2 linked regions of the Homo sapiens genome follow. The protein of the gene in region 1 interacts with the protein of each later gene in a biochemical or structural test. Each region holds a gene or a part of one and is shown on either strand. Other genes may lie near its edges. The genes, in order: TREM2 and UNC5B.

The links.
Region 2: the proteins of TREM2 (region 1) and UNC5B form a complex in vitro, tested with the Homo sapiens proteins (one large-scale study listed by BioGRID).

Annotation. Positions count from the first base shown.
Region 1 is NC_000006.12:41,160,233-41,164,498, reverse strand, and holds the start of TREM2 (triggering receptor expressed on myeloid cells 2 isoform 1 precursor), read left to right. Parts: upstream 1-1,382; 5' UTR 1,383-1,416; coding exon 1,417-1,456; intron 1,457-2,885; coding exon 2,886-3,236; intron 3,237-4,266.
Region 2 is NC_000010.11:71,288,786-71,292,592, forward strand, and holds part of UNC5B (netrin receptor UNC5B isoform 1 precursor), read left to right. Parts: intron 1-172; coding exon 173-205; intron 206-2,129; coding exon 2,130-2,324; intron 2,325-2,646; coding exon 2,647-3,036; intron 3,037-3,681; coding exon 3,682-3,769; intron 3,770-3,807. UniProt on the Homo sapiens protein: Receptor for netrin required for axon guidance. Mediates axon repulsion of neuronal growth cones in the developing nervous system upon ligand binding.

The sequences.
Region 1 (4,266 bases):
ATGGGCCAATAAACCTGACTTCTAGAAAAAGACCCTAGAAGAGTACCTACAGAGTGATCTTCAGGCAGCCTCAGACTTCAGCCCCCAGGCCCTTGGGGCAAGGCCGGGCAGTTGGCCCTTTGAGTGGAGGCCTGTCTTCTCCTCACTATGAATTCCCCATCTCCAAGCACATTCCCTGTCCGTAAGTTAGATGCACAGTAAATATGAGTAAATAAATGAATAAAAGAACAAATAAGTGAGTGTTTGCAGGAAACTAAAGTAGACCCTGATAATCTACAGGCTCCTGCAGGCTTCTCCAGCCTCTTCTGCCACTCCCAGCACAACTCCATTTCCCACTCCTAGAATTGACTCAAGCCTCCTCCATCCAATCCCCGACTCACTGGGCCATTTCACACTTTTGTGCCTTTGCACACGTGGGTCCCTGTGCTTGGATCACCATGGGAACCTGTACGTGTAGAAAAACACACCCCTACCCCCAGAACTCTGAGAAATATCCTGTCCTGTCCTGTAGGATAGGATGATCAGGAGTTCAAGCATGTGTGTGCACAAAATAAACACCAGTGTGAGCATGTGTGCACAGGAGACACCCAACAGTTCCAAGAAGGCTAAACTTGGGCAGAAAATTCCAGGTGGGAGAGAAAATTTTCTGTCTTATGGACAGCCCATTTCCCTTTTCCCTTCTAACTAGGATAATGGTAATAGTTAGTATTTGTTGAATGCTGTGTGTCAGGCCCTACTGGAAAGCACTTTACCTGTAGGAACCCATATGGTGCTCCTGATAACCCTTTGCACTATCATTATTCCCACTGTATAGATCAGGGAACAGACACAGGTAGGTTTTGGATGTGTGGTTACACACCCAGAAAGTCAGGAAGTCTGGCTCCAGAGCTGTGTACTTAACTGCTGCCACACTACAGGAATGACAGCCCTGGGGGGATGAACTAAGAGGTGCTGGATGAGGGTCCTGGCCTCTAAAGGCACAGCTGTTCTCCAACTCTTGCAAGGCTGAAACCAGAAGATGGCGGGCATTGCAGCTGGTGGAGGGTCTGAATACAGCTGTGAGGATAGTGATCCCTGGGCTAGGCTCTGCAAGGAAACTGAGCAGTGCAGGGCCTTACCAGCCCCAACCATCTGGGGGCCACCCTGGCTGGCACCAGCAGGAGGGTGGGCTGGCTTCTCAGAGGTCTGGGAGACTCAGCCTCCTTCTGCCAGGGCTGCAGTGGCCGACTCCTCCTCCCCTCTGTCCCCACCCTGCACCGCCTCCAGACCCCAGTCCTGACTATTGCTTAATCCCCAGGAGCCCAGTTCCTGTGGGCAGCGCCTGACATGCCTGATCCTCTCTTTTCTGCAGTTCAAGGGAAAGACGAGATCTTGCACAAGGCACTCTGCTTCTGCCCTTGGCTGGGGAAGGGTGGCATGGAGCCTCTCCGGCTGCTCATCTTACTCTTTGTCACAGGTAGGATCCCCTCCGTGCCCTGTGATGCCTTCTCTCCCTCACTTTGAGCATGTGGTTGGGGCGCGGGTGGTGGGCCCTGGGGTGAATTATGAAGGCGGTGGCAGTCCTCGCATGCCTGAGTGCCCTGTTCTGCACTCCTCTCCTCCCCACCCTGCCCATATTCTTCACACCCTCCTTCCCTCCCCAGTATCAAAACCTACCCTCAGACTCTTTCTGCATGTGGACATGTAAGGGGCTGGTGGACTCTGGTTGCATTGGAAGGGAAGGAGTGCTAACAGTGGCATCCCAGGCACTAGCTGGCAGTTGGGGGAAGCTTTGGGGGGCACTGGCACTGGTAATAGCCTCTGAAATTATAAGCCACTAATTATGAGCCCCTACAGTTATAAAGGAGGAAAGAACCTGAGGATGTTCATCTGCATCTTTGGGGCACTCTCTCCCCTGCTCTGAAGGTCCCCTTGTCCTCAGCTCTTGATGGGAGGTGAGGAGCGTAGAGATTTCCGTTGCTGAGTTGAGGGGAATTGACACACCAAATTTTTGTACACAATTGCTTCTTCCCGCTGAGGAAAGCGCACCTTTTGCTCCCCCAGAGCACTGGACAAACCTGGGCAAGAGGAGAGACGGTGCCAAATGGAGTCTTGTTCCTGCAGCTTCTTAGATGGTGGTCAGGGGGAAGGCGGGGTTCTGAGGCATGGATGGGAGGTGGTCAGATGGGAGAGGGCCACGGCCCATCTGGTCTCTCTAGTTCCAAAAGGCAAGCCACCAACTTCCCAATCCTATCTTTCAAGCCTCTGTCACAGTAATGGTTGAAGATGGCAGGCAAGGGAGGACCAAGAGAGAAGTCAAAGCAGGGGGCTCTGGGGGCTGCCCCAGCAACAGGCTGGTGCTCTAAGCCCATCTCCCCCGCCCTAAGGAGGGTTCCCAAAATAGCAGCCTCATGTCTCCCCCAAAATATCTCCGAGACGGGTCCTTCCTGAAAGGGGAACAAAGCCACAGAAATAGGGAAGCTGGAAGTTAAAGGTCAGGAAAGTCGGTACCAATGTGGGCGGCTGCAGAGCAAGCAAGAGTGGCGGGGCAGGGAGAGCCAGCCCCAGGCCGAGAGGAGAGGTCCCAGTCCCAAATGATGGCAAAGAGATGTGCAGAACAGAACTGGAGGGGGTTTTAAGACCAAGTGCCTCCAGAATAGACCCAGAGAAGGTCAGTTACTTCTCCAAGGAGGCCCAGCAAGAGCAACAGTGAGAAAACCAAACCCAGGTCCCAGGTTTCCTGGTTCCCAATTTCCCACAAACACATGCTGTGCCATCCGCTCCCAACTTGTATAAGAACCTAAGCTCCTTCAGGGCAGGATTTTTGTCTGTTTAGGTCACTGCACAGAGCAAGTGTTCAAAGCGTATTTGGTAAACAAAGGAGTGAATGAATGTCTCCTCCCCAGAGCTGTCCGGAGCCCACAACACCACAGTGTTCCAGGGCGTGGCGGGCCAGTCCCTGCAGGTGTCTTGCCCCTATGACTCCATGAAGCACTGGGGGAGGCGCAAGGCCTGGTGCCGCCAGCTGGGAGAGAAGGGCCCATGCCAGCGTGTGGTCAGCACGCACAACTTGTGGCTGCTGTCCTTCCTGAGGAGGTGGAATGGGAGCACAGCCATCACAGACGATACCCTGGGTGGCACTCTCACCATTACGCTGCGGAATCTACAACCCCATGATGCGGGTCTCTACCAGTGCCAGAGCCTCCATGGCAGTGAGGCTGACACCCTCAGGAAGGTCCTGGTGGAGGTGCTGGCAGGTGAGTGGGCAGTGGCTGCCTCTCTGGCCTGCCCCTGTTCCAGGCCTCATGTTTTGGGCGTCTGTGTGCAGAACCACCCACTGGGCTCTCAGGGATCCTGGGAAAACCCATCGTATGGTCTCATCTCCCTACTCAGGGCTACCAAGGATAGTTGTGCAGGTTGCTCACTATACAAGGGGGCCAAAATCCAGCCCGGACTCCTTTTGCCAGACTGTGTTCCCTGGTGCAGAGCTGCATCACCTGCAAGAAGGGCACCTTTCTCTACTTTGCATTAAGGCACTCTGTGAACTAGCCTGGCCTTGGCCCTCCTTGCCCAAACAGCTTTATCCATCTCCATCCAGTTAGCATGTGAACATGATAGGAGGTCCTTAAGGAGGAGGAGATTAATTTATTCCCTCACCAACCAACCAATGGCCCTATCAACGTAAGTGAAGCACCAACCTGGTGCAGAAAATCACCCCTAGAAAGGAACACTGCTTGTGCTGGGCAATGTGCTTCACTTCTCTGGGCCTCCATTCTCTCATCTGTAAATGGAGAGGGTGGTGTCTGTCCTGCTGACCCCATAGGGTTCCTGTGAGTTTTTATTTGGCGGGGGGCGTTGGGGGCAGGGTGTGACATGTGCTCCAAGCCTCCTGCTACTGAACTGTCTTGGGATCGTCATTCCAGGTGTGAGTAGGTGGGCCAGGGTGTCTCCTTTCCACCCCCGAGCTCTGCGCAGGGACCACCCTCCAGGAAGGCCTTCTGCTTGAGTCTGCAGAACACAACTGTGTCCCCAAAGGAGAACAAATCTGGGGCTACAAAGGCCTTTTCTGACTCTCCTCCTTTCCAACCCCTTCTCCCAGTATGGCTCTTTACCATGGAAATGAGGTCAGGAGTAGTATTTGCCTGACTTGGGGAGGCCAGGGGAGACTGCCAGTCATAGACACAAACCCCACCTCCACCACTTTCCTAAGGATGGCCGGTGGCAGTGAACTCCCTTAGCCACCTCCCAAGAGGGAGACAGAAAAATAAAAGTAGCCCATAGCTTGTG
Region 2 (3,807 bases), on another chromosome or scaffold:
GGGTCCCCCAAACCCGGCCCCATGCCTCAGTGCCCAGCCTGCAGCACGGCAGTCCTCAGGGCCTCTGTCCCCCCACCACATCCATCATCTCATCTCATCCTTCCCATTGCCTTCTCTGCCACCCTTTCCCTGTCACCTATGTCATTGTCTTTCCCTTTATTTCCCTTGACAGATAAGAAAACTCTAAGCGACCCCAACAGCCACCGTAAGTCCCATTTCATGGCTGTCCTCTTTCCTCTGGGGGATCCCTGGTTCTCTTTGGCTGGCTTTTCCCGGGATCAGGGTGCAGGGCAGGGAGAGCTGAAGGTGCCTACCCACCCCCCACGGGATCATCTACACCTGACACTGCATGTGTCTGCATCTCCATCACCGGCAGACAGGCAAACCCTTGGCTGACAGAAAAGAAAGGCCTTAGGGCACCCTACTGAGCCTCCTCTCATAAGAGGGGAAACTGAGTCACAGAGAGAGGAAGGGACTTGGCCAGAGACACAGGCAAGAAATAGTAGAGCCAAGATTTGAACCCAAATATTTTTATAGCCAAAGCTGTTGTTCTTAACCATATGCCCTTGGCCCTCCTCTCTGGGCCAAGGCCGGGACATCACCACTCCAGTCCCCCCTCATGCCCCTTGCTGTACCTCTCTGCCCCAGCAGCTGGGCCAAGCCTCCCAAATTGTCTCTGTTGCCCGCTGCCCTGCGTCAGCTCTGGAGGGCTCACCCTCCAGCCCCAGAGGCTGCGCCACCACTGCAATCATATCAGAGCAGCAAAGCCACTTGAGCAGGTTGGCCCATGGTAATTAAACCACAATTTCCAGTTAGTTCTGGAATCATAAAATCAGTGAGGCCCTCGGCCGAGCTCACTGGGGGTCGGGCTGGGGATGATTCAAGTGTAAGTCACCAGGCAAGTGGCCCCAGTGTCAGTGAAGGCATTAGGAGGCAGAGCCAAGCTGGGGGAACCATTTCTCTGCTGAACCAGGAGCCCAGCCCTGAGGGGTCCTCTGGGGAGCCCAAGAGTGAGGGCTGCTGAGGAGAGATACAGGGGGACAGAAGTCGGAAGTGGGCAGACATCCGGGGCTGGGAGCCATGCCCTGCCTTGCTGAAAGCCTTAGGCTGACGCCAAGTGCAGGGTGTGGAGGACTCCAGGCAGAGGAAGCAGGGCTACTTCTCTGAGGGCCCCCCAGGGAGGAAGTGCGTGGACAGGTGCTTCCTGGAGCTCCCAAAGGAAGCAAGGGGAAGAGCAGCCATCTTGGCCGCCATTTTTGCTCTCCCTGAACTGCCCAGTGTGAAAGCCGTTCAAACTTATACTTAGCTTAATTAAAATTAAATAAATTTTTAAATTCAGTTCCTCAGCGGTACTGGCTACATTTGAGTTGTTCAGGAGCCATATGTGACTAGTGGCTGCATACGGGACAGTGCAGCCATAGGATTTTCTACCACTGTAGAAAGCTCCACCAGACAACCCTACTTCAGACCCTGCCACTTTGACCTTGAGGCTTCCCGCCTGGCCATGTTTGCCTGGGGGAGGAAAGTGTAGCCGTGGGTTGCCTCCCTGGGCCCATCCTTCTTCCCACATGCTCACCTCTTCTCCACCGCATTGTTGTGCATCTCATTCCACTTCTTCAGCTCCCCGTCCCTCCACTTCCCACCCTCAGAGCATGGAATGGAAGAAGAGTTCAGAACAGCTACTTACAAAGATAACAGAGCCAGAAGACCTTATCTACATACAAAGATAACAGAGCCAGGACCTTTGGTCCTCTGGAAATTGCTACAGACTCAGAGGTTTCAGCCCCAGCACTCACAGGGCAAATTATGTAGCCCCAGTGACTCTGAGCCACAGACCCTGTCTCATCAGCAGCAAGCAATGAATTAACACATGGCATGAACATGTTTGTTCTTTTGTTTCTCATGCCACAACTAGGAGGGCAGTAAGGCAGGGACTTCGAGCCCATTTTACCGATAGAGAGGTTCAAGGCTAGCCCGAGGTTGCCAGCCTGTGTAGGCAGGGCTCAGACTGGAACTCAGCACCGGGCCGGTTGGCCCTGGGCCCTGCCCTTTCCAGGGACCCAGGGCCTCCCTGATTGCCCCAGGGCCTGGTCTCTGCTGCCCCTTATGTGGTCCTCCTGTCCCCGCAGTGCTGGAGGCCTCAGGGGATGCGGCGCTGTATGCGGGGCTCGTGGTGGCCATCTTCGTGGTCGTGGCAATCCTCATGGCGGTGGGGGTGGTGGTGTACCGCCGCAACTGCCGTGACTTCGACACAGACATCACTGACTCATCTGCTGCCCTGACTGGTGGTTTCCACCCCGTCAACTTTAAGACGGCAAGGCCCAGTAAGAACCCGAGGATGTCTGGGGTGGTTGGCAGAGGCAGGATACCCAGAGGGCTCTGGTGGTACCCAGACCAGAGCCAGGCTCCTGACTCCCTCCCAGGGTTTTTCCAGAGTTTGCTCTAGAGATAACTATGTGGATGGGTATGGATTAGAGAACTACCGAGAAGGAAGGGAGTGACCCAGGCTGCGGGATTCCCAAAGCTTCCTGCAGCTGGCAGCAATTGGGCCTTTCACAGCTGGACATTTGGGTGGGATTTTGCAGTGGGAGCTGGGCCAGTGAGCTGAGGCACAGCTGGGTCTGACTATAGCCCCTACTCCTGCAGGCAACCCGCAGCTCCTACACCCCTCTGTGCCTCCTGACCTGACAGCCAGCGCCGGCATCTACCGCGGACCCGTGTATGCCCTGCAGGACTCCACCGACAAAATCCCCATGACCAACTCTCCTCTGCTGGACCCCTTACCCAGCCTTAAGGTCAAGGTCTACAGCTCCAGCACCACGGGCTCTGGGCCAGGCCTGGCAGATGGGGCTGACCTGCTGGGGGTCTTGCCGCCTGGCACATACCCTAGCGATTTCGCCCGGGACACCCACTTCCTGCACCTGCGCAGCGCCAGCCTCGGTTCCCAGCAGCTCTTGGGCCTGCCCCGAGACCCAGGGAGCAGCGTCAGCGGCACCTTTGGCTGCCTGGGTGGGAGGCTCAGCATCCCCGGCACAGGTGAGCCCCTGCCCTGCTTGTGCGTCAGCCTGGCCTTAGCACCTCCTCTGTGGACTGCCCCAACACCCATCCAGCAGAAGATAGGGCTGCCCTAATCCCATCTCACAGATGGGGAAAGGGAGGCCTGAAGGCAGGAAGTGAGTATAAAATAGAGAGGTCTGACTAGAAAAGCTAGGCTTCAAGCCTGCCTATGCCCTCACTAGGGCAGAGGAACCTTGGGCCAGCCATCTTCTAAGCTTCAGTGTCTCTGTTGTGTGAGAGAGAATATTCCAACGTAGTTCAGCAGACCTACAAAGCACTGTCCTGGAACTAGCAGCAGAGGGACAGGGGCGCCTGTTTTAGTTTGCAAAGCCAGCAATTAACAGCTTCCCAGCATCATATACTAAGCTAGGAGTAGAGCTGGCACTTGGACCTCCAGACACCATAGCAATGTCAGAGACCCCTGTCTTCCTAGACAAGCCAGCACTGGTCAGTGGCCTGGCCTCTGCTTGCATCCAGTCCCCAGACCCTGTCTCCCACCCCTGGCTGGGGACTACCTGGAGCTCAGGAGATATCTTTCTCTCCCAGCCCCAAGCTGGGGCCAACTTCCCAAACACTTGTTCTCCTAAGCTCCTGGACTCCCTGCTGACTTCCCTCTCCCCCTAGGGGTCAGCTTGCTGGTGCCCAATGGAGCCATTCCCCAGGGCAAGTTCTACGAGATGTATCTACTCATCAACAAGGCAGAAAGTACCCTGTGAGTAGAGCCCCAGCCGCTGCTCCTTTTTCTTCCTC